2 separate regions of the Homo sapiens genome follow, and region 2 is linked to region 1. The links come from fine-mapping of genetic effects on gene expression. A gene starts in region 1. The other region holds a variant in brackets. All regions are shown on one strand. Distances are between the middles of the regions.

The links. PIP is the estimated chance that this variant, and not a neighbour inherited with it, causes the effect.
Region 2: its variant is fine-mapped to the expression of CDK5RAP1 in monocytes after R848 (Quach 2016, PIP 0.95).

What each region holds. Positions count from the first base shown.
Region 1 is chr20:33,393,531-33,407,331 of GRCh38, reverse strand. It overlaps CDK5RAP1 (CDK5RAP1 mitochondrial tRNA methylthiotransferase), which reads left to right and starts at 5,813. Exons shown (of 14, transcript NM_016408.4): 1 at 5,813-5,904; 2 at 10,248-10,571; 3 at 12,216-12,319; 4 at 13,266-13,300. The coding sequence starts at 10,268. LOC124904889 (a long non-coding RNA gene) reads right to left here and starts at 5,750. Exons shown (of 2, transcript XR_007067567.1): 1 at 5,657-5,750. RefSeq lists enhancers at 5,673-5,872, 6,013-6,102.
Region 2 is chr20:33,961,562-33,978,113 of GRCh38, reverse strand. It overlaps the pseudogene PIGPP3. Among named protein-coding and RNA genes, the nearest start is that of RALY, 24 kb to the left of the region's middle. The variant C/T (reference allele first, on the strand shown) is at 9,143.

The DNA of each region.
Region 1 (13,801 bases):
TGTCAAAGAATTTGTGGACCCATGTCAAAGCCATCTTAGAGAGCTTCAGGACCCTTTCCTGCAGAAGGGAGGTGGAGTGGAATGTGTTTGGTACTTCGGAAACTGCGATGTGCTGGCTGGATGTGAGTGGGCAGTGGTTATGACTCCCTACCTAAAATCACAATGACAATGGCAATGATGGAGAACTTTTTTTTTTTTGAGACGGAGTCTTGCTCTGTCACCCAGGCAGGGTCTCATCTCACTGCAACATCCACCTCCCGGTTCAAGCGATTCTCCTGCCTCAGCCTCCTGAGTAGCTGGGATTACAGGCGCCCACCACCATGCCCCACTAATGTTTTGTATTTTTAGTAGAGATAGGGTTTCACCATGTTGGCCAGGCTGGTTTTAAACTCCTGACCTCAAGTGATCCTCCTGCATCAGCTTCCCAAAGTGCTAGGACACCGTGCCAAGCCCAGAACTTTTTTTTTTTTAAACTTTTGAAAGGTTCAGTTTCTTTAATGTAGCGACAAGATAAAACAAAGATGATGTGCCTGGTGTGATGGCTCATGCCTGTAATCCCAGCACTCTGGGAGGCTGAGGTGGGCGGATCACCTGAGGTCAGGAGTTCAAGACCAGCCTGGCCAACATGGTGAAACCCTGTTGCTACTAAAAATACAAAAATTAGCCGGGCATGGTGGCACCTGCCTGTAATCCCAGCTACTCAGGAGGCTGAGGCAGGAGAATTGCTTGAACCTGGGAGGTGAAGGTTGCGGTGAGCTGAGATCGCGGCCACTGCACTCCAGCCTGGGTAACAGAGTGAGACTCGGTCTCAAAAAAACAAACAAAACAAACAACAACAACAACAAATTAGCCAGATATGGTGGTGTGCACTTGTAATCTCAGCTACTCGGGAGGCTGAGACAGGAGAATCATTTGAACCCTGGAGGTGGAGTTTGCAGCGAGCAGAGATTGCGCTACTGCACTCCGGCCTGGGCCCCAGAGCGTGACTCTGTCTCAAAAAAAAAAAAAAGAGAGACCAGGTAACTTAACTTTGAGGCAATCACTTTTAGCTTACTTACAATGGTAGCATTGTTTCTTTGTGAAAATGAAATTTTCTCAGCTTATCCACTAAATTTTCAGCAACATCCCAAACCACCAAAGACTCACTCCTTTTCCTTCTGGCCATCAGCAGTCTGGTGCCTTCACTTGGAACACCACCCTCCGCCCTATTTTTTGTTTTGGAGGTGGGGTCTCGCTTTGTTGCCCAGGCTGGAGTGCAGTTGCGGGATCCCAGCTTACTGCAGTCTCGGCCTCCCAGGCTCAAGTGATCCTCCTACCTCAGCCTCCCAAGTTGCTAAGACTATAGGACTGTGCCACCATGGCTGGCTAATTTTTTATTTTTTAATTTGTTGTAGAGATGGGGTCTTGCCATGTTACTCAGGCTGGTCTCACACTCCTGAACTCAAGCAATCCTCCTGTCTTGGCCTCAAGCAATTCTCTTGCCTCAGCCTCCTGAGCAGCTGGGATTACAGGCGCTCGCCACCATGCCCGGCTAATTTTTTTGTATTTTTAGTAGAGACGGGGGTTTCACCATGTTGGCCAGGCTGGTCTTGAACTCCTGACCTCAGGTGATCCGCCTGCCTCGGCTTCCTAAAGTGCTGGGATTACAGGTGTGAGCCACTGCGCCTGGCCATAATTTTTGCATTTTTATTAGAGATGTGGTTTCACCATGTTGGCCAGGCTGGTCTCGAACTCCTGACCTCCAGTGATCTTCCCACCTTGGCCTCCCAAAGTGCTGGGATTACAGATATGAGCCACTGTGCCTGGCCACTATATGTATATTTCTACATCTAGAATGAGATTTATCATAAGGAATTGGATCAAGTGATTATAGAGGCTGAGAAGTCCTACAATTTGCCATCTGCAAGCTGCACACCGAGGAAAGGTGGTGGTGTAAATTCCAGTTTGAATCTAAAAGACTGAGAATCAGGAGTGCCAATGGTGTTTAAGTCCCAGTCCAAGGGCAGGAGAAGACCAATGTCTCAGCTTAAGCAGTCAGGCAGACAGAGAATTCAACCTTGCTCTGTCTTCCTGTCCTATTTGGGTCCCCAAGGGGTTAGATGATGTCCATCCAGATTGTGGAGGGTAGTCTACTCTACTCAGTCCACCAAAGCTAATCTCTTCCTCAAGAAACACCCAGAAATAACGTTTAACTAGATATCTGGGCAACCTGTGGCCCAGTCAAGTTGACACAAATAATTAACCAGCACAGTGTTCTGCATTATTTCCCAGTGTTCTCCAGCAGGATTAAGACCTAGATGCCTGCAAGAAAGTTGCTTGTTAACAATGTTTATTGGCTGTCTCCCCTCCCTGTTTCACTCCCCTACTACCCTACCAGTGTTTCCTGAGATTACTTTGCAAATCAACTACCTGCACTCAAATACTTGTCTCAGTAGCCGGGCACAGTAGCTCATGCCTGTAATCCCAGCACTTTGGGAGGCCAAGGTGGGTGGATCACCGCAGGTGGGGAGTTAGAGACCAGTCTGGCCAATATGGTGAAACCCTGTTTCTACTAAAAATACAAAAATTAGCCGGGTGTGGTGGCGCTTGCCTGTAATCCCAGTTACTCAGGAGGCTGAGGCAGGAGAATCGCTTGAACCCGGGTGGTGGAGGTTGCAGTGAGCCAAGATTGGGCCACTACACTCCAGCCTGTGTAACAGAGTGAGACTTGGTCTAAAAAAAAAAAAATACTTGTCTCAGGTCTGCTTCTGGGGAGCCCAAACTAAGACAGAAAGCAGTCATTTATTCATTCAACAAATTTTCATTAAGCCCTTCTATGAGTCAGACCCTGTGTAGATCATGGGGATAAAGCCATGAACAAGACACGACGTGTCCCTCCCTAGCTGATAGTCCAGGGAATAGGCAATGATAAGAAAATAAGTAATGCCAACATTTTGAATAGTGACAAATATGGTGAAGAAAATAATAAGAGAAGTGATAGAGTAGTTTATATGAAGTGGTCAGAGAGGGTCTCTCTGAAGAGCTGATATTTATGCTGAGACCTAAAGGATGAGAAGGGGCCAGCCACGAAACAATTTTGGAGAAGAGCATTCCAGAAAGATAATAGTAAGAAGAGAAGCTCTGTGGGCATGGTGTTGCGTGCCTGTAATCCTAGCTACTTGGGAGGCTGTGGCAGGATAATTGCTTGAACCCGAGAGGTGGAGGTTGTAGTGAGCCAACATCACGCCATTGCACTCCAGCCTGGGTAACAGAGCAAGACTCCGTCTCAAAAAAGAAAAGAAAAAAAAAAAAGGACAGAGGGTCTGAAATAAACATTTGCTTGGGTTATTGAAGGAGCAAGATAAAATTATGTAGTTGAAGTATAGTCAACTAGAAAGAACACAGTAGGAGAAGTAAGTGGTAAGAAGTACATGGGTTGGAGAAGTAAAAGTAAGCAGGGGGCCAGACATGGTGGCTCATGCTTGTAATTCCAGCACTTTGGCAGGCTGAGGTGGGAGGATCACTTGAGGCCAGGAGTTTGAGACCAGCCTGGCCAACATGGCGAAAACCCATCTCTAGTAAAAACAAAAATCAGCCGGGCGTGGTGGTGCTCGCCTCTAATCCTAGCACTTTAGGAGGTCGAGGTGGGCGGATCACTTGAGGCCAGGAGTTTGAGACCAATCTGGCCAACATGGTGAAACCCTGCTCTACTAAAAATACAAAAATTAGTTTGACGTGGTGGTGCACGCCTGTAATCCCAGCTACTCGGGAGGCTGAGGCAGGAGAGTCGCTTTAACCTGGGAGGCGGATGTTGCAGTGAGCCGAGATTGCACTACTGCACTCCAGCCTGGGCGACAGAGTGAGTGAGACGTCGTCTCAAAAAAAAAAAGCAGGGGCCACATCATGCAGGCCCCTAGGATACAGTAGGAAATCTGGATTTTATTGCACGGGCAATGGAAAGCTCTTAAGCTTTTTGTTTTTGTTTTTTTCTTTTCTTTTCTTTTTTTTTTTTTTTTTGAGATGGAGTCTTGCTCTGTCGCCCAGGCTGGAGTGCAGTGGCTCGATCTTGGCTCACTGCAATCTCCGCTTCCTGGGTTCAAGCAATTGTCCTGCCTCAGCCTCCCGAGTAGCTGGGACTACAGGCACGCGGCACCATGCCCAGCTATTTTTTATTTTTTATTTTTAGTAGAGACGGGGTTTTACCATATTGGCCAGGCTGGTCTCGAATTCCTGACCTCATGATCCACCCACCTCAGCCTCCCAAAGTGCTGGGATTACAGGCATAAGCCACCGTGCCCGGCTGTTTTTGTTTTTTTCTTTTTCAAGACATGGTCTCATTCTGGTACCCAGGCTGGAGTGCAGTGTTGAGGTCATGGTTCACTGCCGCCTCAACTTCCCTGGCTCAAGCAATCCTCCCTGCCTCAGCCTTCTGAGTAGCTGGGACCACAGGTACCCACCACCATGCCGGGGTAATTTTTGTGTTTTTTGTAGAGATGGGGTTTTATCATGTTGCTCAGGCTAGTCTAGAACTCCTGGGCTCAAGCAATCTGCCCATCTTGGCCTCCCAAAGTGCTGGGATTACAGATGTGAGCCACCACGCCCGGCCTGCCACGGAGAGTTTTCAGGAGAGGGGTGATATAATTTGATTTAATAAAACAAACACAAATTCCCTTAGGCTATGTGTGGGAAACTGTTCTCAGGAGACAAGGTGACCATTAGCAGGCTACTGTGATTGTTTCTGATGAGACAATGGTGGCCTGGGTAGTTGTAGCTACCGAGTAGACAGATTTGACATTTTGGAGTTAGAGTTGACAGGGCTTACTGACAGATAGAATGTGGGGATCCAGGGAGGTGAAGAAAATGACCATTCAGTTCCTCCTAGTGCACCTGGAAGGATGGTTGGGCCATTTACTGAGATGGGCCAGAATGACAGGTACAGGTTTTTGGTGAAGGTGCATGTGTGGAAATGAAGAGTTCTGTATAAGTTAGAGATGGTCATCAGACACTCAAGAAGGGGTGTCAAGTAGGCAGCTGAGCTATGGCTCTGGTACTGCAGGGAGGGTCCAGCTGGAGATGTGAATCAGGAAGTCATTAACCTACAGGGCAGCACCCTCCAATAGAAATAGAGCGTGAACCTCTTAGGTGACTTAAAATTTCCCAGTAAGGACCGGACACGGTGGCTCATGCCTACAATCCCAGCACTTTGGGAGGCCAAGGTGGGAGGATGGCTTGCGCCTAGGTAGGAGTTTGAGACCAGCCTGGGCAACATGGGGAGACCGGTCTCTACAAAAAAATTAAAAAAATTTTAGCTGGGCGTGGTGGCGCCTGCCTGTAGTCCCAGCCACTTGGGAGTGTGAGGTGGGAGGATTGCTTTAGCATGGGAGGCGGAAGCTGCAGTGAGCCATGATCACACCATATTATTTTTCCCCCTGCTAGCCACATTGAAAAAGTAAAAAGAAACAACAGGTGAACTTAATTCAAATATTTCTACCACCATAGCTACAAATAAAAAAAACTAATTCAACAAATGTACTTATTTAATCCAATATATCCCAACAATTATTGCAGCACATAATCAATATAAACATTATATATATGAACTATTTGACACTATTTGACATTTCTTCTTCCACATCCAGTGTATCTGACATTTAGCGCACATTTGATTTGCACTCACCCACTTTGAGGAGCTCAATTGCCGCTTAAGTCCGTGGCTAGTGGCTGCCCTAAAGTTCAGCACCGCCACGGAGCTTTGGGTCCACCCGGACTGTAAAAAGGAAGCACTTCCGTTAGCATGACCCGGCCTGAAGTAGCGGCGGAACGGAAGTCGCTTGTGTATGAACGCAGCGGCGGACCTGTGAGGGGATCCGACTTGCCGGCAGAACTTACGCTGCGGGACCCCGGGCACTGTTGCTGCTGCGGGAGGTGAGCAGCGCGGCCGCCGGGGTGGGCTGCGCACCCGCTTTTGACTGGCGCCTGGGGCAGGAGGGGCCGCGGATCCCGGGAAGCGCACGGTGTTCAAGAGGGAGGATGGCACGGTGGTTATGGCGTGGGGCCTGGCGTCAGGCTGTAGGGGTTCGTACCCTAACCCCGCCGCCTAACCCCGTGTGACCTTGGACAGGTCACCTCCACTTCTTTCAAGGCTTCGCTTCGCCACCCGTGAAGTGGGGTTGACAGTACAGCCTGCCTCACAGGGTTGCTATGAGGGTTATAGGTAATAATTCGCGGAAAATGCTTTGCACCATGCCTAACGCATTGTAACCAGCCAATAAAATGTTTGGGATGTTGTACGCTGTTGTTCCAGCCTCATTGCCGACTGTCAGAATTAATTTCGAGCCTCCAGAGAGGCTTCTACATTGCGTTATGCAAAGCATTTTGCTTGTATTATTGCATTTGATCCTACGGTAGGCTTATGGAGATAGGTGCTATTATCCCCATCTAGAGGCTCCCAGAGTTTAAGACAGGTGCCTAAGGTTTAGCTGGCTTGGCAGCAGTGGGGTCAGATTCTGACTCCAGGGTCCATACTTTTTTTTTCTTGAGACGGGAGTCTTGCTCTGTCGCCCAGGCTGGAGTGCAGTGACGCGATCTCGGCTCACTGTAGCCCCTGCCCCGCGAGTTCCAGCGATTCTCCTGCCTCAGCCTCCTGGGTAGCTAGGATTACAGGCGCATACCACCACACCCGGCTAAGTTTTGTATTTTTAGTGGAGTTCATACTCTTAACCAGGATGCTCTAATACTCTCTGTGAAAGGGGGTGTGGGCTGTAAATGTGCAGTTAGTGAACGCTTACTGTATCTCAAGTTGGGTTTTTAATATCTTATTCTTAATAACACTTATGGGGTGGTAGGTGCTGCTTTTATCCTTATTTTACACATGTGGAATTGGCGGCTCAGAGACAGAAATTTGTCTTGCCAAAGGTCACACAGCAATTATGGAGTAGAAAGGGGCGATTTTAAAGTTCACACTTTAAGGCTGTTCTTCTCTGACTCTTGAAACTGGGTTGGCATTGCTCCTAAGTGCTAGTAGCAGATGTGGCAGGTCATCTCATTGGAAAGGTAATGGGCCACATCTGCTCTTTACACGTGTATAGCAGGGTTCCCCTAACCCTAGGTGGTAGAATGGTACCTGTCTGTGGCCTGTGAGGAACCGGGTTGCACAGCAGGAGGTGAGCAGCAAAGCTGGCATTACTGCCTGAGCTCTGCCTCCCGTCAGATTGGCCACGGAATTAGTTTCTCAGGAACACAAACCCTATTGTGAACTGCGTATATGCAAGGCATCTAGTTTGTGCATTCCATTTCCTTTTTTTTGAGACAAGTTCTCTCTCTCTCTGTTGCCCAGGCTGGAGTGTGGTGGCGCAATCTCAGCTCACTGCAATCTCTGCCTCCCTGGCTCAAGTGATCCTCCTACCTCAGCTTCCCAAGTTGCTGGGATTACAGGCACATACCACAATGGCTGGCTAATTTTTTATTTTTTAATTTGTTGTAGAGACAACAAATAAACATGGTCTTGCCATGTTGCCCAGGCTGGTCTCGAACTCCTGAGCTCAAACAATCCGCCTGCCTCGGCCTCCCAAAGTGCTGGGATTATAGATGTCAGCCACCGCACTGGCTCAAGATTGCATGCTCCTTGTAAGAATCTAAATGCCTGAGGTGGAACAGTTTCAACACACCCCTGCTTCCATGTCTGTGGAAAAATTGTCTTCCATGAAACCAATTCCTAGTACCAAAAAGGTTGGGAACCACTGATGTTTAGCACCTGCCGTGAGGCAGCTACCACAATGGGAGATGGTGAAGGTGTAGAAATGAATGATACTTGTTCCCTGCTTGCAGGAACCTGCCAGTTTACTAGGGCTGGCAGAAGTGTCAGTAATAATTAACAGCAAAGTGTGATGAGTCTTGTGATGGAGAGATAGAATAGAGCTTTGGGAACCCAGAGGAGGACCCCACCTAGACTTCGGGGGTGATGGCCAGAGCAGGCTTCCCAGAGGAAGAAAGCTGAAAGTACCATAGGCCACTAGAGAGAAGATAAATACCAGCCAGAGAACAGCATGTGTAAAATCCTATAAGCTAGTGAAGATTAATACAAAGAAGTGTGGCATGGCTGGAGTGTAGTAGGCCATAGATGTGGGGTCCAGTAAAAATATATGGTGATCCTAGAATTCTTCCTTAGTCAGAAAATTAAAAAAAAAAAAAGTAAATAGTATGGCTTCATCTCCTATACCTTAGTCACCTAAGTCTTCCTGGGAGGCAACTATTGTTTCTTATGCATTCTAGAGATATTGTATGTACCTGCAAATAGGTACCTCAATATTCCCACCCTCTTTCCCCACAGATTCAACAGTAGTATAATGTAGGTAGCATGGAGCATATTGCTTCCTTGCCTTTGTCATGTATAGGTTCAGCCTCATTTATTTTTATTTTTATTTTTTTGAGATAGGGTCTTACTCTGTCACCCAGGCTGGAGTGCAGTGGTGCGATTATGGCTTACTGCAGCATTGATCTCCTGGGCTCAAGCAATCCTTTCATCTCAACCTCCTGAGTAGCTGGGACTACAGGTGTGCATCACTGTGCTCGGCTATTTTTTGTTATTTTTATAGAGATGAGGTCTCACTATGTTGCCCAGGCTGGTCTCGAATTCCTGGCTCAAGTGATGTTTCTGTCTCAGCTTCCCAAAATGCTGGGATTATAGGCATGAGCCACTGCACCCGGCCACCAGCCTTGGTTTCTAACAGTTGTATCTTGTTTCATTGTATGGATGCACCAGAACTTACTTAACTAGTCCTTTATTGATAACATTTAGATCTTTCCCTTTCCTTTGCTATTAGAAACACTGTTGCATTGAATATCTTTTATTTTTATTTTTTGAGACAGTCTCACTCTGTTGCCCAGGCTAGAGTGCAGTGGCGTGATCTTGGCTCACTGCAACCTTCTCCTCCTGAGCTCAAGAGATTCTCATGCCTCAGTCTCCCGGGTATCTTAGAATACAGGTGTGTGCCACCACATCCAGCTAATTTTTTGTATTTTTAGTAGAGATGAGGTTTCACTGTGTTGGCCAGGCTGGTCTCGAACTCCTGGCCTGAAGTGATCCACCAGCCTCAGCGTCCCAAAGTGCTGGGATTACAGGCATGAGCCACTGTGCCTAGACTGAATGTCTTTATACATAGGTCATTTTGTATGTGTATAGATTTATCTGCAGGATAATTATGAGTGGAAATGCTTTGTCAGATGGTTTGCACACTTGTAATTTTGATGGAAAGTGGCAAATTGTTCTCTATAAAGGTTGTGTTATTTGCTAAGCCAAGTGTGAGAGGGTCTGGGTGGAAAGTTTGAAGGTAGTAGTTTGAAACTCTTTTTTTTTTGTTTTGAGATGGAGTTTCGCTCTGTTGTCCAAACTGTAGTGCAGTGGTGCGATCTCGGTTCATAGCAACTTCTGCTTCCTGGGTTCCAGTGATTCTCCTGTCTCAGCCTCCTGAGTAGTTGGGACTATAGGCACTTGCTACCACATCTGGCTAACTTTTGTATTTTTAGTAGAAATGGGGTTTTGCCATGTTGGTCAGGCTGGTCTTGAACTCCTGACCTCAAGTGATCCTCCTGCCTCGGCCTCCCAAAGTCCTGGGATTACAGGCATGAGCGGCTGCATCCAGCCAAGACTCTTGAAGGGTAGAAGGAGTCACTGATCGGGCATACAATGCCCTCACATTAGTTGCTTTCCTTCTGAAGGAACTCAAAGGAAGATGCCCTCAGACAGTGAGTGGTTTTCACTTTATTAAGAGGCAGTGTAGCAAGATGGGTAGTGGCACGGGCTTTGCATCCATACAGATTTTTATCTGAGTCCTTGTTTGACTGCTTACTGGCTGTAGGAGCTTAGGTGAGTTCCTCAACCTATGTCTTTCGGAATAGGAACAATAATAGTATCTGCTTCCTAGGATTGCTGTAAAGATTTAATGAGTTAATACACTTAAAGCCTTGGGAACTGGTCTTGGCACAAGGTGCTATTTTGTCATTTTGTCAGGGCTTTCCATCTCATCTCTACCACCCCTTGTTTTGAAAAGACTGCCTGGATTTGCATCTCATCTCTGGCACTCCTTTGTGTGGTCTTGGGCAAGTTGCCTCAGTTTTTTTCAACTGTAAAACAGAGGTCATATTATTAGGAGTACCTTCTTCATGGGCTTTTGTGAGGGGTAAATAGATGTATACACTTGAAGTGCTCACAGCAGTGTCCTGTCCATAGTGTTCAATAAATGCTGGTGATGTCTGTCATTCTTTTGCAGACTGTGGGCTGTTTAGTGCCATGCACCCTTTACAGTGTGTCCTCCAAGTGCAGAGGTCTCTGGGGTGGGGACCATTGGCCTCTGTGTCTTGGCTGTCGCTGAGGATGTGCAGGGCACACAGCAGTCTCTCTAGTACCATGTGTCCCAGTCCAGAGAGGCAGGAGGATGGAGCTCGGAAGGATTTCAGCTCCAGGCTGGCTGCTGGACCGACTTTTCAACATTTTTTAAAAAGTGCCTCAGCTCCTCAGGAGAAGCTGTCTTCAGAAGTGGAAGACCCACCTCCCTATCTCATGATGGATGAACTTCTTGGAAGGCAGAGAAAAGGTTGGTTTTACTTCGCTTATCCCTTTGGGCTTCCTGCCTTGCTCCTCTCTGTCATTCCTGGCATGATTCTTTTATTACAGAACTGGCTTGGAAGGTTAACAGTGTGGGAAGGCTGTGGGAATCATTAGACTCCACCAAGTAATATTAATATCAAGAAACTCGACTGGTCACGGTGGCTCATGCCTGTAATCCCAGCACTTTGGGAGGCCAAGATGGGTGGATTGCTTGAGCCCAGGAGTTCAAGAACAGTCTGGGTAACATGGTGAAACACTGTCTCTACAAAAAATAAAAAATTAGCCAGGTATGATAGTGTGCACCTGTAGTCCTAGCTACTCAGGAGGCTGAGGTGGGAGAATCATTTGATCAAAAGCTGATTATCATTCAGCTCTTAACTTTTAGTTGGAATTTATTGGAGTCTGGAAATAAGACCTGCTGGTGGGGACGGGGGTTGATCTTGGAATATAGTTTGAAGCTGCCAGAATGTGAAATTCATATTCTTACAACTGTGTACAAAATTAGTTTTACTTCATAATATAGCCTTGCTTTCATTTAAGATGAAGTTACTGTAAGAAGATGCCTCATTTTAATTTTGTGACTTTATGTACCCTCTGGCCACTGCTGCTACTTCCAGAGGCTGGAAAACCTCTTTATTTTGAGGAGGAGTGTAACATGTGGATTTAAACTTATTTTCCCTTCAGGCTGATGAACACTATCAGTTAGCCCTTCCTTTTCTTTTCTTTTTTGTTTTTTTTTGAGTCTCGCTCTGTCGCCCAGGCTGGAGCACAATGGTGCGATCTCAGCTCACTGCAACCTCTGCCTCCTGGCTTCAAGTGATTCTCCTGCCTCAGCCTCCTGAGTAGCTGGGATTACAGGTGCACGCCACCACACCTGGCTGATTTTTGTATTTTTAGTGGAGACCTGGGTTTCACCATTTTGGCTAGGCTGGTCTCGAACTCCTGACCTCAAGTGATCTGCCCGCCTTGGCCTCCCAAAGTGCTGGGATTACAGGCGTGAGCCACCACCCTCGGCCTAGTCCTTCCTTTTCTAATTGTTTTTATAACTATATTTCCTTGATTCTCAGGTACATGTTTTCCCCATTTAAAAGATAACATGGCTTGTAATTGGTGTGGATATATAATGTGGTATATTTTTTTGTTTGTTTGAGACAGGTTCTCACTCTATTGCCCAGGCTGAGTGCAGTGGTGTGATCATGGCTCACGGCAGCCTCAGTCTCCTGGGCTCGAGCAGTTCTACCTCAGCCTCCTGAGTAGCTGGGACCACAGGCATGTATCACTTGCCTAATTTTTAAATTTTTTGTAGAGACAGGGTCTCCCTATGTTGCCCTGGCTGGTCTCAAACTCCTGGGCTTAAGTAATCCTCCTGTCTCAGTCTCCCAAAGTACTGGGATTATAGGCATGAACCACTGTGCCCAGCCTAATATGGTATTTCTTTTGTTCTGAAGGTCTATCATTAACTTGGGGGTACATCTGGCAATTTATGTTATCTTAAGATTGAAGCAATAGGGGACTTAGTGGATAACCAGATGCCTCAGATATTTCTAGAGCATTTGGGAAGGAGACCTTTTGAGACACGAGACCCCTTGTTGTCTGTCTACCATGGATTCCCCCCAACCTCTCACTGCAGTCTACCTCGAGACCTATGGCTGCCAGATGAATGTGAATGACACAGAGATAGCCTGGTCCATCTTACAGAAGAGTGGCTACCTGCGGACCAGTAACCTCCAAGAGGTACATGCATTTCCTATTTCCTTTGTTTCCTGGACCTGGGCAAGATTCTGCATTTGTGCCAGTTCTTAGGTGTAGTTTCAGGAGCAGGGTGCCCCCTGGTGAGAGAGAGTTCCCTTGGGTGAAGTGTTCACCATGGGACTGAGTTGTACTTTTGTTCCAGCTGTTTTTGAAACTTTTATGGTGATGTGCGCCTTCAGACAAGGAGCTAAGTTAAGAATTGGCTGTGGAGAGGGAAGTTGGAGAGTTACTGTTTAACGAGTACAGGGTTTTAGTTGCAGAAGATGAAAAAGTTATGGAAAATGCGTAGTTATGAAATTGCAGATGTTCTTAATGCCACAGGACTGTACCCTTAAAAATGGTTAAAATGTCCAGGTGTGGGTCACCATGCCTGTAATCCCAGGACTTTGGGAGGCCAAGGCAGGAGGATTGCTTGAAGACAGGAGTTTGAGGCTGCAGTGAGCTATGGTTATGCTATTGCTCTTCAGCCTGGGCAAGTGAGCGAGACTCCTTTCTCTATTAAAAAAAAAAAAAAAGGAAAAAAATAGTTAAAGAAAAATAATAGGCCGGGTGTAGTGGCTCATGCCTGTAATCCTAGCATTTTGGGAGACCAAGGCAGGTGAATCACTTGAGGTCAGGAGTTCGAGACCAGCTTGGCTAACATGGTAAAACCCCATCTCTACTAAAAATACAAAAATTAACTGGGCGTGGTGGTGGGCACCTGTAATCCCAGGCTGAGGCAGGAGAATTGCTTGAACCGCTCGGGAGGTGGAGGTTGCAGTGAGCTGAGATTGCCCCACTGCACTCCAGCCTGGGAAACAGAGTGAGACTCTGTCTCAAAAAAAAAAAAAGGAAAAAAAAATAATAAAGAGCTGTAGGGCAGGAATTGTACAAGGCTAATATCCAAGATATTATGTAATTTTCCTTGTTTTCCTTTCTTTCCATTCAGGCAGATGTGATTCTCCTTGTCACATGCTCTATCAGGTGCGAATTTGTTCTTTTCCTAGGAGTGAATGTATTTTATGTAATAATGCCAGAGCTAACAGTGCCTGGCCTGGCTGTCTATGGAGATGAGCCAGTGGCCCCATGGCAGTAGGACTTGCAGTTTTCCCACAGTGGAGATAGTCTTTATACAACTGGCTGACATTGGCTGGGCATGTACCGTGGTGTCAGGTTCTGAGTGAGTAACATAATGCATTAACAAATTTAATGATCACAACAACCCTGTGTGGTTGGTGCTGTTATAGATGAGGACACCAAGAATGTGCCGAGCCACTCAGCTCTTCCTGAGCTTTGTTTTGTAACTAATGGCATATGTTTATAATATAGCTGCCCGGGGTAGGATGTAGTCATAGGCTTGGGGAGTTTTGAGTAGAGATGGGTGACTCCCATCAGAGGTGAACGTACCTCCTTTCTCACTTTGTTTCTGTGTTCAAGACATGCTAGTGTTAATGTTTCCCTATCCGGCTATACTGTCAATTAATT
Region 2 (16,552 bases), 570 kb before region 1:
TTCATTCATAAACATTTTAGTATGTGTCAGAGCTATCTTTCTTTTTTTAATGACAAAAGCAATACCTGGTTGTTACTTAAAAACACTAATGTTACAGACACAGATAACATGGAAAATAAATATTCCTTGCTATGGTTTGAATGTCCCTTCCAAAACTCATGTTGAAATTTATTTACCAATGTGATGGTATTGGGTAGTGGGGCCTTTAAGAGGTGACTAGGTCATGAGGGCTTGAGGGAGTGGGTTAATTTTCATGGGAGTGGGCTCCTGATAAAAGAAAGAGTTTAGCCCGATATCCTCTCTCTGTCTTGTGCACTAGCTTCCACCTTCTGCCCTTCCACCATGGGAAGACCCTCACCAGATGCTAATGCAATGTTCTTGGACTTCCCAGCCTCCAGAACGATGAGCCAAATAAACTTCTGTTCTTTATAGATTACCTAGCCTGTGGTGTTCTGTTATAGTAGCAGAAAACAGACTAAGACATCTTTCACAGCCACAATCTCTAGACATAACTGCTTTCTTTCTTTTTTTCTCTTTTGAGACAGGATCTTGCTCTGTCACCTAGGCTAGAGTGCAGTGGTATGATCAGGGCTTACTGCAGCCTCACCTGCCTGGATTCAAGCAATTCTCCCTCATCAGCCTCCCAAGTAGCTGAGATTACAGGCACACACCACCATGCCCAGTTATTTTTTTTAATTTTTTTGTAGAGATAAAGTCTTTCTACATTGCCCAGGCTAGTCTCAAACTACTGAACTCAAGCAGTCCTCCCACTTTGGCCTCCCAAAATGCTGGGATTACAGGTGTGAGCCACTGCACCTGGCTCATAACTGCTTTTGACATCATCTTAACTAATTTTCCTCTAGATCTCTTTTTCTATGTGTGTACCAGCATATAGCAATACTTTTCAAAAAAATGTATTTTATTTTGAAATAAAAATAAAGTATTTAAATATTTTAAAATAAAATGTTATTTAAAATAAAGTATTTTTATTCAAAATAAAAATACTTTTTTTGAAAAGTATTATTATAAACCTATTTGGTACATTGTTTTGTAACAAGAATGTGCTATTTAGTGATATATCTTGGACATAGATCTGTTGCACAAAGGTTCTGGGTCTTTCTGGTAGATTCTCCCATTCCTGAGACCATGGAAAGGTTAGGCAAGCTCTGGTGTGAAGATTTTAGCCAGAAGCCATAGTGCAAACCCAAGAAAGCCAGCATGATTTCCACCCTTCCTCTTCTCCCCTCCCCTGTTAGTTAGATATTTTGTTTCATTGGTTCAGCCCAGTCTGGAAAAATTATGGTTGGGTTTTGAGAAGCAGCTCTAAGCTGGCTATTTGAGAAGCAACAGTAATGAAGGGTGAGGCAGGCAGGCCCTCACCTCGTAGGCTGCATAGAACACTGCAAATGAACTTAGACTGGGATTCCAGATACCTTTGCTTCTTGTCTTGACTCTGCCCTTTGTATCTTTATTATGGTTAATTTGTTGAGACATCTTTTTTCCAGATAGACTATTAGGGTAGGGAACTGAGGTCTCTTCTTATTAGGTCATCTTATAGGCATTGATGTGGAAAAGAGGAAATAAATCTATCAGTATTTGGGGGAAAAGATTATGTAACTGAAAACACCAAGAGAATCAATTGCGAGACTGCTGACAACAATAAATGAATTCCACGGAATAACATGGTAAAGAATTAATAAACATCAACTGCTTTCATGTATGCAAACAATAGTCAATCAGAAGACACAAAGGAAGAAGATATCCCATTTGCAATAGCAACAAAAAAGAGGCAGAGATTCAATTTGTGAAGAAATTTAAACACTTCTTTACAAAATACCTGGAAATAAAGGTGCGAGATTTATATGAAGAAAAGTTTAAAATATTACCAAAGGACATGAAAGATTTGAACAATAGGAAAACGTGTCATGTTCTTGGATAAGATGACTCAGTAATAAAATATATATATATATATATTTCTTTTTTAATATATATGGCATAAGGAAAAAATATATATAATTATACACAGTCCTTATGTGCTCTCTCTCTCTCCCTCCCTCCCTCTCTCTCTCTCTACATATATATATATATATATATATATACGTGTATATATATACACATATATACACACACACACACACACACATATATATATATATATATATATATATAAATAGTCATACATCACTTAACCGTGAGGATAAATATTGAGAAATGCTTCATTAGGTTATTTCATCCTTGTGCAAAGAACATCATAGAGTGCACTTATGCAAACCTAGATGGTATAACCCACTACACACCCTATTGCTATACCATAGACATATATATGGTATAGCCTATTGCTTCTAGGCTACAAGCCTATACAGCATGTTACCATACTGAATACTATGGGCAATTATAACACAATGGGAAGTGTGTGTGTAATTAAACATATCTAAGTTGGCTGGGCACAGTGTCTCACGCCTGTAATCCCAGCACTTTAGGAGCCTGAGGCAGGTGGATCGCCTGAGTCAGGAGTTCAAGACCAGCCTGGCCAACATGGCGAAACACCATCTCTACTAAAAATACAAAAATTAGTCAGGTGTGGTGGCACGCACCTGTAATCCCAGCTACTCGGAAGGCTGAGGCAAGAGAATCACTTGAACCCAGGAAGCGGAGGTTGCAGTGAGCCGAGATTGCGCCACTGCACTCCAGCCTGGGCGACAGAGCAAGACCCTGTCTCCCAGATAAATAAATAATAAATAAACATATCTAAGCATAGAAAAGGTACAGTAAAAATATGGTATAAAAGATACAATTGTACACCTCTATAGGGCATTTACCATGAATGGAGCTTGCAAGACTGAAGTTGCTCTAAGTGCATCAGTGGGTGAGTGGTGACTGAATGTGAAGGCCTAGGACATTACTGTACACTACTGTCGACTTCATAAACACTGGACACTAAGGCTGCACTAAATGTATGAAAAGTATCTTTTTTCTTAAAAAATAAATTTAGTTCACTGTAACTTTTTTACTTTATAAACTTAAAAAATTTTAAAAACCTATTGACTGTTTTGTAATACATAGCTTAAAACACAAACAAATTGTACAGCTCCACAAAACTATTTTCCTTCTTTATATGCTTATTCTATAAGCTTTTTTGATTCTGAAGGTTTTTGTTTTTATTTTTTAAACTTTTAAATTAAAAACTAGGACACAAACACACACATTGGCCTAGGCCCACACAGGATCAGGATCATCAATATCATCATATTCCAGGTCCACCCACATCTCATGCCACTGGAAGGTCTTCGGCGGCAATACATACATGGAGCTGTCAACTCCTATGATAACAATGCCTTCTTCAGGAATACCTCCTGAAGGACCTGCTTGAGGATGTTTTACAGTTAACTTTAAAAATGTAAATAAGAAGGCTGGGTGTGGTGGCTCACAGCTGTAATCTTAGCACATTGGGAGGCTGAAGTAGGAGGATCCCTTGAGGCCAGTTCAAGAGCAGCCTGGGCAAGAAAGCAAGACTCTCATCTCTACAAAAAAGTGAAAAAAGAAGGCCAGGCGCAGTGGCTCACGCCTGTAATCCCAGTACTTTGGGAGGCCGAGGTGGGCGGGTCACCTGAGGTCGGGAGTTCGAGACCAGCTTGACCAACATAGAGGAACCCCGTCTCTACTAAAAATACAAAATTAGCTGGGCGTGGTGGCTCATGCCTGTAATCCCAGCTACTCGGGAGGCTGAGGCAGGAGAATCGCTTGAACCCGGGATTCGGAGGTTGCGGTGAGCCAAGATCATGCCATTGCACTCCAGCCTGGGCAACAAGAGTGAAACTCTGTCTCAAAAAAAAAAAAAAAAAAAGAAAAGAAACAATAAAACAAATAAATAAATAAGAAAAGAAAAAGAATGAGAGAGGACTACCGCTATCAAAGATACAATCTTTATAAATAATAATTAAAGCAGTATAGTGTTGTTGTATGAATAGATAGACAACTAGCCGGATAGACTAGAAAGCCTAGAATACATCCAAAATACACACAGGAATTAAGTATATGATAATAGTCGCATCTTACACCAGAGGAGATAAGATAGACTGTTTCAAGAGAGTTGACGGGAAAACTGGGTACCCATATGATAGAAAGCAACAACAGCAACAAGTTAGATCTATTCCTCTCTCTCTTCACCAGGTAATTTTTTTTCTTTTTTGGTCTCTAATTCCTGGTGATAAGATAGGGGAATTTTTAAAAGATAGACAGGACTCTGGTGATGCTGCCTGGCTAGATTCCAACTCCTGGGTTTAAGCAATTCTCTCGACTCAGCCTCCTTAGTAGCTGAAACTACAGGTACATGCCACCACATACAGCTCAGGATAATTTCTACAAGGATCAAAGATTCAAATAAAAAAGTAAAGATGTTGGCCGGGCACAGTGGCTCACATCTGTAATCCCCGCACCTCGGGAGGCCGAGGCGGACGGATCACCTGAGGTCAGGAGTTCGAGACCAGCCTGGTCAACATGGTGAAACCCCGTCTCTACCAAAAATATAAAAATTAGCCAGGCGTGGTGGCACGCGCCTGTAGCCCCAGCTACTCGGGAGGCTGAGGCAGGAGAATCGCTTGAACTCGGGAGCTGGAGGTTGCAGTGAGCCGAGATCACGCCACTGCATTCCAGCCTTGGCAACAGAGCAAGACTCTGTCTAAAAAAAAAAAAAAAAAAAAGTAAAGACACTAAAAGAAAACATAGGAAAATTCCTTTATTTTGAGGGCATGGAAAAGGCCTACCTAATTATGACTCAAAACTCAGATAAATTTCACTTTTTTTAAACTATCAGATTAGCAAGACCCTAACATGTTATCTGTCGGCAGAGAGTCAGTGGAGGGGGCATGGCAGTCTCAGGAGAATAAGGAATATAAGTTGGTGCAATACCTATAGAAGATAATTTGGAAACATCAAAATTAAAAATACATGTGCTCTTTGTCCCAACAATTCCATTTCTGAGAATTTACAATAGCACCTTTACCTTTAAGTATGAAATGACAAATGCATAAACTTATTCATTGTGGCATTGTTCACAACGACAAATAATTAGAAAGAATCTAAGTGTTAACCAGGAAATTGGTTTAATCCATTGCAGCACATCTGTATAATAGTACATATATGTAAAAAAAGAATGTGTGGGATTTCCAGTTCCACCAACATGGAATAGCTCCATTTCTCCCAGGTCCTCTCCCTAAAAACTAAAAATCCCTGGACACAACACAGCAAACCTAGGAAGATTCTCAAGGGTGGAAAGAAGAAGGCACACTACAAACCAACAGCTCTCATGAACTTGGATGTAAAAGTCCTCAACAAAATATTAGCTAATCAAATCCAGCGATAGATAAAAAGAATTATACACCATGACTAAGTGAGATTTTGTTCAGGTATGCAAGGCTGGTTCAATATTCAAAATTATTTCTTCTTCTTCTTCTTTTTTTTTTTTTTTTGAGACAGGGTCTCACTCCATCACCCAGGCTGGAATGCAGTGGCACCATCTCAGCTCACTGCAACCTCCGCCTCGCAGGCTCAAGTGATTCTCGTGCCTCAGCCTCTCAAGTAGCTGGGATTACAGGCGTGTGCCAACATGCCCAGCTAATTTTTGTATTTTCAGTAGAGACAGGGTTTTACCATATTGCCCAGGCTGCTCTCGAACTCCTGGACTCAAGTGATCCACCTGCCTTGGCATCCCAAAGTGCTGGGATTACAGGCGTAAGCCTCTGTGCCCAGCCTGGCTATTTAAATTTAAGTTAATTAACATTAAATTAAATTAAAAATTCACATCCTTAGTCAAGCTAGCCATATTTCAAATGTTAAATAGTCATCTGTGGCTAGTGGCTCGTGTATTGGACAGCACAGAATTACAAAACATTTTCATCACAGAAAGGTCCATTGGACATCACTGACCTAGAGAATTACCCTTTACTGTGTGCTTACTATAAAATATAGCTGTCTGTTGAAACATCTCAGTGAGTGTTCTCTGGGGCTAGATTGTCTAGGTATGAACCCCAGCTCTGCCAGTCACTAGCTGTGTGACCCTGAGCAAGTTACTTCACCTCTCTGTGCCGCATTTCTTCAACTGTAAATTGGGCATCATAATAGTATCTACATGAGATTACTGTGAGGATTCAATGAGATAATACATGTCAAACACTTGCAACACTACGCTGACCCATAGTAAATTCTCAGCACCTGTTGTTTTTATTTAAACCTCACAGCAGCCCTGTTAGGTAGGCGTTATTATGGTTCTCATTTATGGGAGCAGAAATTGAGGCTCAGAGAGCTGGAATAACTTACTCAAAGTCACATGGCAATGAAGTGGCAGAGCTGGCTTTGAACTCCACAGCCCACAGTTTTCTAGACTTTAAGCTACTTCTGCCTCTGAGGGGTAGGATGCCTCTGCTTCTAGCCTCAGCTGGCACTTGGTCTAGCTCCACGATCTTCTTTGCCAGATGAGCTTCTGCCAACCCTACCAGGGGCTCCAAGTACTCATCCACATCCCTATCACCATCAGCAGGGGCCTCCACCATCCACTGGCACCCATGAGAAAGCCTTCCCCTTCCTGCTGCCCTAGGTGAGGTGCTGGGCCCAGAGCACTGCACAAATAGAACATGAATTCTGCTGACAGAGTAATAATAAGGCCCCTAAATCAACACTTGGACTTTTTGCTTTACATATATTACTCAAACTACATGTCAGGAATTAATACACATTATAAACCAGATGTGCCAGTTACATATTTCTCTCTGGAACATCTCTTGGATGCCTCCTGAAACTGCTACTGGTGTTAATCACACATTGTTTCCACCCTACTCTGCCCTTTGTGGGACTGCGCTGACAGCAGGAGGGGCAGGGAAGGGGCAGGAAGGATGGGAGGCCTAGAAGATCTGTAAGGAGCCAAAGCGCTGATTTTCTCACTTTGGAACCCGGCCCAGCTGTGTTGGGTTCCACAACAACTTCTGTATCTCTCTTTTTTTTTTTTTTTTTTTTTTTTGAGACAGAGTTCTGCTCATGTTGCCCAGGCTGGAGTGCAATGGTGCGATCTCGGCTCACCATAGCCTCTGCCTCCTGGGTTCAAGTGATTCGCCTGCCTCAGCCTCCCAAGTAGCTGGGACTACAGATGCATACCACCATGCCTGGCTAATTTTTTGTATTTTTAGTAAAGACAGGGTTTCGCCATGTTGGACAGGCTGGTCTCAAACTCTTGGCCTCAGGTGATCTGCCTGCTTTGGCCTCCCAAAGTGCTGGGATTACAGGCGTGAGCCACTGCACCAGGCCCACTTCTGTATCTTTCTGCTGTGCAGACTGGGACTGTTAGCCTGATATCCCAGTACTTAGCTGGGGTCTGGCACATGGTGCATATTCAGAGAAGGTGGCAGAGGCTGCTGATTTCCTACTCCAGGTTATTCTCTCCTTGTTTCCAAAATAGGGTTTTTAAAAACCTTGATGTTCTTTGGGGCTGCAATGTACCAAGCTAAAAATACTCACCTCCATAATTTCTTTTGTCACTAGGTATGGGTATGGGAACTAGCTGTGGCCAATAAGATGAAAAAATATATATATGCTGGGGATTTCTGCAAAGTCCTGACATAAGGGCCATTAGTTACTCCTTCTCATTTCCTCTCCCTCTGCCTGGAACATAGTTGTGATGGTCACAATTGCAGCCATCTTGCAACCATGAGGTGAAAAGTATGAGGACAAAGGCCTACATGCTAGGATGGAGGTGTGAAAGGGTGGAAATAATCTGGAATCACATGGATATATCTGAGCCTTTGTGCTAGTCCTGTTATGCCCTACCGCCAGACACACTGTTATTTAAATAAATAACAAGATAAACAAGCCTCACTCTTAACCTTGCACTTATCGGGACTTATTGCATTCCTGATGCGTTTGTTTTTAATGTGCTGGCATCCATAGGAAAGCAACTCTTGGGGCACCCCTTTGGTCCTTGCCTCCTTCTCTAAAGTATGCCTATGACTACATTCCTGCCCACACCCCACAGTCAGAGTGTCCACCACATTCCCCACTGGGTGAGTGGTGGGCCATGGCCATACCTGATTGAGCCAATGAAATTAACCTGGCCTAACCACTTTCCCTCCCTGACAATTTCAACTCAATCCAGAAATTTGCATTAGAACATAGAAATTAGCGTTTGCAGCCTGCTGTGGCCCCAGGAAGGTTTCCTTTGGCCAGGATAGTGCTTTTTTAGATTTTTGAAAAACATCAAGCTTACCCCAAATAGCTGGATATCTGACCTCTCTTGAAATAGTGGAAAATCTGGCATCACCGGGCTCACATTCCACATGGCAATAAATGGCTGTGGCTGGGAAATGGCTGCCCCCTCTAGACAGGCACACACTCGCACAATTTTTACAGTCCCTTGGGAGAGCTTCCCTTGGGACTATGGAAAATGTGTGTGCCTGTGTTCTATACATGGCTCCTTTTCATCATCCCTGTTGGCTCCTGTAGGCATTTGAAGTTTAAGATGCCTGCTTTAAGTAGTCTCTATAAGTCCCCAAACCGTGCTGATAATAATGCTGATAATGAAGATAACAATAGCAACAATTACTGATGGCTCCTGTGGCCTAATAGCTTGGTGAGGGCTTTACACACGTTGTGTGATTTCATCCTCAAAACAGGAAAACTGTTGTCCTCATTGTACAGATGAGGAAACAGAGCCCAAAGAGGATCAGTAACTTGACCAAAACCTTGTGGATGGTAAACTGTACATCTGAGATTTGAATCCAGGCATTCTGACCTCAAAGTGGGTGCTTCCTAAACAGTAAGCTATAATGTCTTTCCATGAATTAAGACAAAACCACAGCTGGAAAGAAGTATGTGGCAGTTGTATTGAGAGAGACAGAGAAAGAGACAGATAGAGAGAGAGAAATTGAGGCACCAAAGTGGGAGGCAGAGGGAGTAGCTGCCTGGGCCCCTGTTTTCTATTTCCCTGTGAAGCCTAGCTGTAGCCCACATTTGGGTTGCACGCAAACCACAAGTTGGGATTCATAATGCAAGCAACAGAAACTGACTGTGGTAGATTTAAGCAGGAGAGGAATCAGTAGAAAAGATACCAGAGAGCTTTTGGCATTGCTGGGAAGGCTGAAGAACCAGACCTGGACAC[C/T]GCAATGGCAGAAACACAGGGCCTGTGAGGACCCTGCTGCCTCCAGTGCAGAGTACCAGACCCTTCCACTTGCCTCTCTGACTCTGCTAAAGCTCCACATCTGCATGCTAGGAACAGTCACTGGCCCTACTGCCCAGGCTGCCCCAGAGACAGGATATTGCTGCTTCTATGGCCACCACCACCAGACTACCTCTCCACTGTCCCTGTGTCTTTCTTTTTTTTTTTTTTTAAGATTTAAGTGGAAGTTTTTGTTTTATTGGTTTGGTTTGGGTTGGGTTGTTGTTGTTGTTGTTGTATTGTGTTGTGTTTTCTTTTGTTTAGAGACAGAGTCTCGGCCGGGCACAGTGGCTCACGCCTGTAATCCCAGCACTTCGGGAGGCTGAGGTGGCCGGATCACTTGAAGTCAGGAGTTCAAGACCAGCCTGGCCAACATGGAGAAACCTCGCCTCTACTAAAAATACAAAAAGTACCCAGCCATGGTGGTGTGCACCTATAATCCCAGCTACTCAGGAGGCTGAGGCAGGAGAATCGCTTGAACCCAGGAGGCAGAGGTTGCAGTGAGCCAAGATTGTGCCACTACACTCCAGCCTGGGTGACAGAGCAACACTCCATCTCAAAAATAAATAAATAAATAAATAAAATTTAAAAAATAAAAAATAAAAAAATAGAGTCTCACTCTGTTGCCCAGGCTGGAGTGCAGTAGCATGATCTTGGCTCACTGCAACCTCCATCTCCCAGGTTCAGGTGATTCTCCTGCCTCAGCCTCCCAAGTAGCTGGGACTATAGGTGCGCACCACCACACCTAGCTAGTTTTTTTAAATTTTTTAGTAGAGATGGGGTTTCACTATGTTGGCCAGGCTGGTCTCAAACTCCTGGCCTCAAGAAATCCACCTGCCTCAGCCTCCCAAAGTGCTAGGATTACAGGCATGAGCCACTATGCCCAGCACTGTCCTTATGTCTTTATATTACCGACTCCTCATTCAAAGTTTGGTTTATGCTTCTGACTGGCTGAGCCTAGGTCACTTGCCCAAACCTTAGCTGCAAGGGAGGCTGAAAAGCAAATAGCTAGCACTGCCACATTCTATGTGGGGAAGTGAGCTCTACTTCCCACCAAGACTCATATGATGGGAAATTCTTCAGACATGAGTATGTGTTTCTGAGGCTGGACAGCCAAAAGGAACAACTATCCATAAAAATTCACAGTGTCCCCTTTTCAATAAGCTAGCTCAAGTGATTAGCATTTAGAATTGCATCAAAAAAGAGATAGCACTCAAGTGCAGTGATCAAGGAAAATATTTATTTATTTTTTTGAGACAAGGTCTCAGTCTGTTTTCCAGGCTGGAGTGCAGTGGTGTGATCACAGCTCACTGCAGCCTTGACCTCCCAGACTCAAGCGATCCTCCTGCTTCACCCTCCCAAAGTTCTGGGATTACAGGTGTGAGCCACCCCACCTGGCCAGGAAAGTATTTATAAAGTTGTAACAATCGTTAAGGGAAGCCAACGGGAATGGGGGAAGCACCCCAGAGACTGCAACAGTTGAGGGGGGTACATTATGGGTCCAGGCCTAAAGAGGCAGGGAGAAGGAGTGCTTCCGTGAATGTGGAAAGAGTTGAAGTTGAGAAAACGGTTTTCCATGATAGTTCCAGTCCTTGGCCCCAGTGGCGGGGGAGCTGGGTAAATAAATACCCTCATTTCTCTCTTCTTCCATCCTCTAGTATCCTGCACGTGTCTCCCATTGAGCAAACCCAATAGAAAGCCAGGGAGTAAAGAATCCTTTCGACATATTCCATTAAAGTGAATCTCTGGGACACAGCACCACTGGTGGAGAGGGCGAAGGGTAGATCTGGAGAGCTAAACAGAATAGCTAACAACCCATGGCATGATCCTGATCTTACCATTGAATCACTCTAAGCCGGTTTTTCCACTTTAATTGAGAGACTCTGGCATTTTGTGGTTCTCCCAGAACTTTCCAACTGGCCACTGCTGACATCTCCTCCTTTTTGGCCTGACCTGTTAATTTGTTCCTATCTATAAGCCTGCATGTGAAGGTCACAGCCTTTGGTTTCCAAAAAGCAGAGTCTTTTCTATGTGGTCACAGGGAGTCGCCTTTGTTGCAGGTGAAATCAATTCTCCATCCAGGTCCCCAAATTCTGATTTGACGGCTCTCCTGGAATTTTGCCAAACAAGCAACTTGCCTCTGTAAGGCATGAACTGTCTTCCCAGATATCAAGAGCTGCCCTCGTGGGGTGGGTTGTTTCTTTCTTTCTCTCTCTCTCTCTTTCGAGACAGAGTCTCACTCATTGCTCAGGCTGGAGTGCAATGGTGCGATCTCGGCTCATTGCAACCTCCGACTCCCAGGTTCAAGTGATTCTCCTGCCTCAGCCTCCTGAGTAGCTGGGATTACAGGCGCCTGCCACCACACCTGGCTAATTTTTTTGTATTTTTAGTAGAGGCGGGGTTTCACCCTGTTGGCCAAGCTGGTCTCGAACTCCTGACCTCAGGCGATCTGCCCACCTCGGCCTCCCAAAACGCTGGGATTACAGGTGTGAGCCACCACGCCCGGCCTGTTTATTTATCTTTCAAAGCCTCATTTGGTCTCTTTTTCCTCTCACGACTTGGTCTGCCAGCCAAATTTTACTCTAGCTTCCCGCATTCCCTGTTGAGTGATCATCTCTCCATGACCCAGATCTTAGTCCTTCTCTCTACAAAGAACTACAAAGAACATCGTGTCTCTACCTTAACTGCAGTCTGGTGACTCTGTTGCCAGCATGGCTTGAAATGGTTCTTGCCTAGACTTATTTTTTTTTTAATGGTAATGCTGTATTTTATTCTGTTCATTAACAATACATGAGAACACTTACAATATTCATTGAACATAATCTAAGAGAAGATCAATTTACAATTTTTACATCTCCTCTATTAATAAGAGAGATGGTTGAATTAATTTATGGTCAAAATTACGATGGCAAAAACTTATAAATAAATAAATGCTTGGTGTTAGTGTGTCCGGAATTTATTCCCTCCAGCGGGTTCTTGGTCTCGCTGACTTTAAGAATGAAGCCGCGGACCTTCGCGGTGAGGGTTACAGTTCTTAAAGACGGTATGTCTGGAGTTTGTTCCTTCAGATGTTCAGATGTGTCCAGAGTTTCTTCCTTCCCGTGGGTTTGTGATCTCGCTGACTTTAGGAGTGAAGCCGCAGACCTTCACAGTGAGTGTTATAGTTCATAAAGGTGGCACATCGGGAGTTGTTTCTTCTTTCCGGTCGGCTGGTGGTCTCGCTGACTTCAGGAATGAAGCTGCAGACACTCCCCGTCAGTGCAGAAAAGTTCTCCAAGTCCCCACCCGACCCAGAAGCCCAGCCAGCTTCACCTCTCATTAGTATGGCCAGGTACATTTCAGTTTTTGGTGTAAAGGTCTTTGGCTACAAGAAAGAAAATTTGGTTTACTTCACTAAATAGAAATAGCTCTTAATGCTGGAATGGCCTCCTCTTAGTATTTCTTCTGCTGTTGATTTTTAGCATAGTTATCTGTGATTGTACGAATGGAGTCGAGTGAATGGGGTACAAACAAGAGCACATAGCCAATTACTATAGTAATAAGGAAGTAGAGAGGTAATGCAACTGTCCAATATTTTTGAGGCCAATAGGTTAAACCTAAGGAGTTTAGCCAAGATTCAGGAATAGAAGCCTACACGAGGTAAAGTATGAAGCCAAATTGGGAGCTTAAGAGAAGCAGAAGGCCATAAATCGGTCTTTCTGGCAATGGTGACAGTGAATTTTCCACCATTTTTCCTGGGGCTTGAGACAATCTCAGCACTGAGTTCCCTGTGCAAGCGCCGACCAGGAAGCCCCAGTGCGGGGCGAGGGGGAAAGAGGAAAAATTGAGGGAAAGGCCTAGGCGCGAAGGCTCCCCCAACCCAGGCGCAGGCACACGACGACCCTCCCGCTGGTTGGGAGCCAGTGAGCGCCTCTTGCCTAGATTTCTGATGGGAGAAGCTGTTTCTCCTCATCCTTAAAGTTTTGAGTGGATGACCTAGATAAATGAGCAATGAAACTATGAAGACTAAGTTCAAAGGAGTGACATTTAGCATTGTGATCATCTAAAATCTGTACAAGTTAGGCGATGCATTTAATAAGTGATTATAAATATTTAACGTATACATATACAGCAAGTGACAAGCGTTTTATCATGAGCATTAGCATTCTTAGGGAGAGGTGGCAGTGGAGTGGACTGTGATGTTCGGCACAGGCAACCCTCCTCCCCCACTGAGGAATGAAGGATTTATTCCACCTGCTACTGGGAAAAGTGTTGGCAGATGATCCTTGGCTCTAAGCCCTCTTTGGGAATTTCCTTGGCAGCTGCCTTTTCAGGGCAGTCTGCATAAATGATTGATCAGCTTGGGAGCTTAGAGGCCTGGTCCCCTTGCCTCTACTCAGGACAACTTGGAAGACCTATTCCAGTTTTAGAGGTCTCCATGAGGTCAGTGGAAGCCTTTGTTCTGACATTGCACTTCAATTTCTCCCTCTGCTCCATCCTGCTTCCTTCTCTGCTCTTCCACCGGTGTTGATCCCAAGAGCACTCCCTGAGTAACTTCCTGCATGTTAATCTCTATCTCAGAGTTGGCTTCCCAGAGAATCCAACCCACAGTCCTCCCCTCCTCCTTGTTTCCGGGCCCCTTAGAATGTGACTTTGCAGCTTCTCCAATCAAGAGATGGAGTTTATTTTTTGACATCTTGAATCTAAGCTGGCCTGTGACTTGCTTTGGTCAATAGAATGAGGCAGAGGTGACATTGTGCCAGTTCTGAGCCTGAACCTCCAGAAGCCTTGCATGCTTCTTCTGTCACTCTTGGAGTCCTGCTGCTACTGTGAGAACAGGCCCTGGCTATCCTGCAGGAGCAGGAGAGACGAGTGGTCAAGTCACTGCTGTTGCCCCAGCTGACAGTCAACCAATCCCTGAAGCAGAGCCACCTGGCTAACGACAGTGCCTGAATGAACCTAGCCAAGACCAGAAATAATACCTAGCTGAGTCCAGGCGAAACTGCTGACCCAGAGATTCAAGAGCTAATAAGTAGTACTGTTTTAAGACAGTTAAGTTTTGGGGTGGGCTTGCTATGTTGCAATCCTTAACTGATACAAGAAGGAACTGTGTTTGAGGAACCACAAACTGGAGGCAGGAGCACCAGGCCCCTAGTAACAGAAGAGATGATTAAGAGCTTTCCATGAGAAAATGGGAGGAATTTATCTTTTGCCCCTGCGAAGAAGGCAGAGAGAACAGAATGGGGGTAGGAGCATTAAAAGTAGGTAAGGAGGAGAAGGTTGCCAGCCAGAAGGTAAATGACTGGGAATAATATGAGTTGAAGCAGCAGGTGGAATTGCCTGGTGGGTCTATGTCCATGTAGTGAGGGCAGCAGACAGACTTGTTTGTATTTCTTAGATATAATCACTTCTCTGTTTATTTGCATCTCATTCCAATCTCCTTACGAAAACAGGAACCAGGCCGGGCGCGGTGGCTCACACCTGTAATCCCAGCACTTTGGGAGGCTGAAGCGGGCAGATTGCCTGAGCTCAGGAGCTCAAGACCAGCCTGGGCAACATGGTGAAACCTTGTTTCTACTAAAAATACAAAAAATTAGCAGGGCATGGTGGCACACACCTGTAATCTCAGCTACTTGGGGGGCTGAGGCAATAGAGCGAGACTCTGTCTCAAAAACAAATAAACAAAGAAAAAACACACACTATTGCATAAAAAAGCAACTTGCAGAAAATGAAATATGATAGCATTATAAAAACACATAAGACAAACATTTATGGATACATTATATGAGTAAAAGTATAAAAACAAGATTTGGAAGGACAGACACCAAATTCCCTATGGTGGATTCCTCTGGGAAGGAAGGCATACGTAAGAGATGTCACTTTTAACCCTATTAGATTAAAACAATCAAAAGCCGATCCTGTAAAATAATAACATTAAATTCAAAGAGTTGGAGGGCATGGGTATTTGTTAGACAGCTCTCTGTTTTTTCTGTATTTAAGATTTTTACCAACTGAGAAAAAATCTAATTATACCCATGAATGTTTTTGGTTATTTGTCTGAGAGTGTGGCTGAGTTTCACATCTGGGTCATAGAGATTCATGCCAGAACCAGGACCCCAGAGGCAATGTTACTGAGCATATGAGTCCCCTAAGGTCTCCAGACTCTTGGGAAGGGCTCTGTGGACATATAGGCCATGGAAATGGAATCTAAGTCCATCTTACTGAGCTTGCCTGTGGTGAGAGACCCTGGGGAACATCTGGGTTACATGTATAATTGTTACAGGCATTGACACCACGGGTAAGCAGATCTCATATGTTAAACAAATGGTAAACAAAACAAAACAAAACCTCTTCTCTCTTTGCTAATTTCACAGTGTCTATAATCAGGCTTGCTATCGATAGTTTTCCCTGATACTGTGTATGATCCCACACACAATTAAAGGAAAGTGTCTGGAAATGAGAGAGTTGTGAGTATTAGTTGATGAAAGAAGCAGATCTGAGCAGAGGAGCTGCCGATAAGAATGAAGAAAAGACCCACACTAAGAGGGCTCACTGATGCTCCCGGGTCTCAACTCGGGACCCGAGCTCGCTTTGGGTGCCTAATTCACACTCACCTACTGTCCCTCTGGCTACATGTTCTCTCCAAAAACTCTAAATGTAACCATGCTTCCTTTAGATTCCTGTGCTAGGCACCATCTAGCCATAGACAAAGCTGGCTTTGAGTCTCAAACTAGCTGTGTGATCTCTTTTCTTGAAATGCAGTCTCACTCTGTGGCACAGGCTGGAGTGCAGCGGCACGATCTCGGCTCACTGCAACATCTGCCTCCCGGGTTCAAGTGATTCTCATGCCTCAGCCTCTCAAGTAGCTGGGACTACAGGCCTGAGCCACCATACCCGGCTAGTTTTTTGTATTTTTAGTAGAGATGGGGTTTCACCATGTTGTCCAGGCTGGTCTTGAATGGTCTTGAACTCCTGACCTCAAGTGTTCCACCAGCCTTGGCCTCCCAAAGTGCTGAGGTTACAGGCGTGAGCCACCACACCTGGCCTAGCTGTGTCATCTTGAACAAGTCACTGAACTCTGTTGAACCTCAGTTTTCTCACCCATAAAATACTGATTCTAATCCTTGCCTTCCCCTATAGGACTGTTTAAAAAGGATTCAATAAAATAATGGACATTACAGGGGACTTGCAACCTATAAGTTTGTATATGGAACAGTTGTAAACTATTCCTCAACTGTAGATAACAACTGCTATAGATTATTTTATTTATTTATTTATTTATTTATTTTTTGAGGTGGAGTCTCACTCTGTTACCCAGACTGGAGCACAGTGGCGTGATCTCAGCTCACTGCAACCTCTGCCTTTCGGGTTCAA